Linked DNA regions of Homo sapiens: region 2 is linked to region 1. A link means that fine-mapping ties the variant in region 1 to the expression of a gene that starts in the linked region. Tissue or cell type: whole blood. Region 1 holds a variant in brackets; the other region holds the start of a gene. All regions are shown on one strand. Distances are from middle to middle.

Region 1 (2,760 bases):
AAAAAAAAGCCAACCGGTTGGGACTAGGTGTGGTGGCTCACACTTGTAATCCCAGCACTTTGGGAGGCCAAGGTGGGAAGACTGTTTTGACCCCCGGAGTGTAAGACCGGTCTGGGCAATATAGCAAGATCCCATCTAAAAAAAAAAAAAAAAAAAAGGTACAATAAATCATGATATGATAACCACCTTCACAGTTCTTTGGGTTCACTCTAGTATTTTTCATCATTTATTGCTCAGCACAGTACCTGCCTGACACAGTAGCCACTGAACCAATCCATTATGAACAGTAAATATTAAAACAATACCTCTACTTTTTCATTAGCTGGAGTCTTCTTTCCTATTGGTACCAGCTGTGGGATTTCGTCTTCGGATTCATTTGTTGCTTTAACTTGGGCTTTTCCTCTGCCACGTTTTTTCTTCCCATGCTCTGGGGTCTGTTCCTTCTTTGATTCAGGTTTCTTCACTGTAGTATCACCACTTTCAGGTGCCACATCATCTTTACTAAGAACTGATGCAGTCTTCCTAGCCTGCTGCCTCTTCTTCTTCCTCTCCTTTTGTTTTTCAAAATTTCTTTCTCTTCGTTTTCTCCTTGCCTCCTACCAAAAAACACCATACAAACATTTTAGCAGGAACAGTTCTGTTGGTTAACAAACGGCATAGATGTACCACGTGCAGTTTTGATTATCCATAAGCCCCTAAATGGACCTCGATCTATACAGAGAACAAACTCCCTAACCAGCACTGGAACCTCAACCGCAGTTTTTGACTCACAGCCAAACATGCATTTTATGCAGTAAATTATATACCGGCATTTCAGAATCTGACTATCTAAAGTATACAGTTAAGAGACTTTTGTGAAACACAGTATGGTTTAGAGTGTAAAGAATAATACTCAGCTGGGCGCGGTGGCTCACGCCTGTAATCACAGCACTCAGGGAGGCTGAGGCAGGAGGATCACTTGAGGTCAGGACTTCGAGATCAGCCTGGTAAACATGGTGAAACCCCATCTCTATTAAAACCACAAAAATTAGCTGGGCATGGTGATACGTGCCTGTAGTTCCAACTACTCAGGAGGGTGAGGCACAGAGAATCATTTGAACCTGGAAGGCGGGGGGTTGTAGTGAGCT[G/C]AGATCATGCCACTGCACTTCAGCCTGGGCGACAGAGTGAAACTCTGTCTCAAAAACAAAATTAAAAATTCATTGGACACAATTAACATGGCTAAAGAGAGAAACACTAGGAGATCAGTCTAACAAATAGCAAAAAATTAAATTTTCTCTCCTTCCGAAAGCTTCTTTTGCTAGAGTACGAGTAATACTGAAAACCTACAAACCAAGCTCAGGAGGTATCTGTGAGCATAACCTCCGACATCCAAATACGTGCACATTAGGTGAACTGGTGTGTTGAAGTTATCCCAGTCCCAGTCCCAACGAATGTAGGTGTATGAGTTTGTCCTGTGATGAAACAGCGCCTTTTCTAGGGTTGGCTCTTGCCTGTTACCCTTTTCCCTGAGCTATCAGGATTAAACTCCAGCCACCTACAACCGTGGATGGGAATAACTGGGTAAATAATTATGTCAATTCCTTTTATTACTGTTTCAAATGTATATATAGCTCACATTTATTTCAATGTTTAATATTTTAAATGTTTTGGTCTTTATTTAGAAGTATGGTGATGTTTCTATGACCGGAAATATGTGGTAGGAACTTAACTCAGGCCCCCTCAAAAGCCAGTTAATCCAGGCCAGGCATAGTAGCTCATGCCTGTAATCCCAGCACTTTGGGAGCCCAAGGCAGGCGGATCGCTTGAGCTCAAGAATTCAAGATCAGCCTGGGAAACAGGGCGACCATGTGTGTACAAAAAATAATTTAAAAATTAGCTGGGCATGGTGAAGCATGCCTGCAGTGCCAGCTACTCGGGAGGCTGAAACAGGATTGCTTGAGCTCAGGAGGTCAAGGCTGCCGTGAGCCTTGATCACGTCACTGTGCTCCAGCCTGGGGGACAGAGTGAGACCCTGTCTCTCTAAAAAAACCCAGCAAGCACTGGATCTAACAAAAATAAAAAAAAAATCCAATTTATCAATAAATACAAGATATTTCTATCTTAATGCGCATTACTAACATCAACTACCTCATGTAAAGTGACAAAAGCATACCCATTTTACCTCATGTAAAGTGACAAAAGCACAACCACCACAAAACCAGAAGATAACTGAAAAGTCGGGCAGCGATGATGGTCTACTTCTCTCCTAGTGACTGAATTTACACCCTTCATTATTCATTCTGTAAGTATTTAAAATTCTACTAACTTTTTTCTTCTTATTAAGCAAAGATCTTTTGGTGGCTTCATCCCAATTGCTGACAAACGAGGAAAAGATGGGAAGTGCAGCCGATTTCTCAGTTTTCACAAACAGGAGTTTCACGCTCTCCCACTTCTGAAACAAAGAAAAGAGTAACATCGTCTACATATACTTTGTTTCTTTTAAATGAACAATCAATTGATGCACCTGTAATACTGTACCTCTGGCAATTTTTCTGAAAGTCCTTTGGTGACAGCAACAATGTTTTCAATGATGTGCTCAATTTGCATTCCAACGTGACCAATACGTATAGCACTGAAATTTAATATAGTATTAGACAAGATTTTAAAAAACCATTTTTCAAAATAAACCAGGCAGGTATATGAGAAATATAAATACATAATCCTCAAGTTTTTCTTTTTCTTTTAAAAAGGTAGAAATATTAATCCCGGGCAACATGGCAA
Region 2 (2,500 bases), 120 kb after region 1:
AGACAGAGTGAGACTCTGTCAAAAAAAAAAAAAAAGGCAAATTCAAGTGATCCATTTATGTAAACAGAAAAATGCACTATATAAATGTATCTATCTAGAATTCAGGGATCGGTGAAACAAAAGACATCGCATCGGCAGGTCTGTTTGCAACTTCTGGGATACACCAGGTGTTAGCGGTGATGACTTCTGGATGCTTGGACTGTGGATTTTTAAAATGGTTTTATCTGCTCATCTGTATTTCTAAATTTTCAACAATGGAACATAGATTATTGTATTATTATTATAATACCCCAAACCTATCTTCCTCTCAGCCCTCTTTCCACGAGCTCTTACCCTAAATGTCTCTTTTTCTGTCAGTGGCATTGTGCGTCTTCCTTAGTGCATCACCTCTGATCTTCCTGTAGAATTTTTTTTTTTTTTGAGATAGAGTCTTGCTTTGTCACCCAGGCTGGAGCGCAGTGGCCTGATCTTGGCTTACTGCAAACTCCGCCTCCTGGGTTCAAGCACGTCTCCCTGCCTCAGCCTCCTGAGTAGCTGGGATCATAGGTGCCTGCCACCATGCCTGACTAATTTTTGTATTTTTAGTAGAGACGGGGTTTCACCATGTTGGCCAGGCTGTTCTGGAACTCCTGACCTCAAGTGATCCACCTGCCTCGGCCTCCCAAAGTGCTGGGATTACAGGAGAGCGCCACGGCGCCCAGCTTACACCAGACTACTTTTTAAAATGTTTTTGTAAAGTCAGGGTTTCGCCATGTTGCCCAGGCTGATTTTGAACTCCTGGGCTCAAGCAATCCTTTTGCCTTTTGACTCCCAAAGTCCTGGGATTACAGGTGTGAACCCCTGCAGCTGGCCTCAATGTTAAGATCTTAAGGGGCACAGCACAGACCTTGTCTTGTCTATCTCCCTGGCACCTCTCACAGAGTACAGCTTATTAACAGATGTTCCAGAAACTGTTACTGAACATTCGGCTTGATGCTGTGGGCTTGTCTGCATCTTGCAACTGTCACCTGGCTGAGAAATTTCTTCTATAAATAAGCAGTTTCTGTTTCAGATGTGATATGCCCTGATATTTACACCCTGTCTCTTACCCCATCCAAGACTCAAACTTAGAAACTTGAATTAGATGTGGTATTCAAATCCTTAGCTGCCGCGAAGACACAGACAGCCCCCGTAAGAACCCACGAAGCAGGCGAAGTTCATTGTTCTCAACATTCTAGCTGCTCTTGCTGCATTTGCTCTGGAATTCTTGTAGAGATATTACTTGTCCTTCCAGGCTGTTCTTTCTGTAGCTCCCTTGTTTTCTTTTTGTGATCATGTTGCAGATGGCTGGGCAGTGCTCCCAAAATGAATATTTTGACAGTTTGTTGCATGCTTGCATACCTTGTCAACTTCGATGTTCTTCTAATACTCCTCCTCTAACATGTCAGCGTTATTGTAATGCAAGTAAGTAATATTGCTTGAACGATTATTCATTGGTGTGAACTATTCTGTCTATATGGACTGCTTATTCAGAGAATCAACATAATGGGCATGATGGTGAGTTTTCTTGAATCAAAAAGAGAAAGGAAGCAAGGCAGTGATTTTAATGTTTATGGAAACAAAGTAATTATTTGGAACTGAACTTGATATGATTCAGCACTATTAGCAACATAGATTTTTTTTAAAAATCAGCTCTTCTAATTAAGTGATATTTAGAATTTAAAAGTCAATGTTCATTAATTAAGGTGATTGAATGGAAATAATCCATACTTGATTATTTTGCTATCAAAACAATCCATAATTCATTATTTTAGCAAAATAATCAAGTATGACAGCCGGGTGCGGTGGATGGCTCACACCTGTAATCCCAGCACTTTGGGAGGCCGAGGTGGGTGAATCACCTGAGGTCGGCAGTTTGAGGCCAGCCTGGCCAACCTGGTGAAACCCTGTCTCTACTAAAAATACAAAAAATTAGCTGGGCATGGTGGCACAGGTCTGTAATCCCAGCTACTCGGGAGGCTGAGGCAGGAGAATTGTTTGAACTTGGGAGGTGGAGGTTGCAGTGAGCCGAGATCGCGCCACTGCACTCTAGCCTGGGCAACAGAGCAAGACTTTGTCTCAAAATAAATAAATAAATAATAACAATAAAGTATGTGAATATTATGTTATCAGCTCATTATCTGTCTGATGTTCTTTTCATAAAGGTGTGACCAATTCAGTGAAAGGAACGAATGCGATTCTCTGGACCTGTTTGGGACTGAGCTTAATAATTTCTTTGGCAGTTTTCGTGCTAATGTTTTTGCTAAGGAAGATAAACTCTGAACCATTAAAGGACGAGTTTAAAAACACAGGTTGGTTTGATGGTGAATCTTTGAAATCTATTTCCAGGGGATGGCTATTGTGAGTTTCAGTTCCTTTTCTTTTTTTAGCGTTGACTATTTCACTTCGTTACAGCCCTTTCGAATGTGTTAGAACATTGTTACATTAAATGAACTTGGTAGAGGTGAGCCATCTTCATTCT

The links. PIP is the estimated chance that this variant, and not a neighbour inherited with it, causes the effect.
Region 2: TNFRSF17 starts here. The variant in region 1 is fine-mapped to the expression of TNFRSF17 in whole blood (TOPMed, PIP above 0.99).

The regions. Positions count from the first base shown.
Region 1 is chr16:11,839,390-11,842,149 of GRCh38, forward strand. It overlaps RSL1D1 (ribosomal L1 domain containing 1), which reads right to left. Exons shown (of 9, transcript NM_015659.3): 6 at 2,518-2,611; 7 at 2,306-2,431; 8 at 306-596. Among named protein-coding and RNA genes, the nearest start is that of RSL1D1, 11 kb to the right of the region's middle. The variant G/C (reference allele first, on the strand shown) is at 1,128.
Region 2 is chr16:11,964,012-11,966,511 of GRCh38, forward strand. TNFRSF17 (TNF receptor superfamily member 17) reads left to right here and starts at 1,199. Exons shown (of 3, transcript NM_001192.3): 1 at 1,199-1,443; 2 at 2,184-2,330. The coding sequence starts at 1,314. It also overlaps a transcript of NPIPB2 not described here. RefSeq lists enhancers at 747-866, 987-1,426.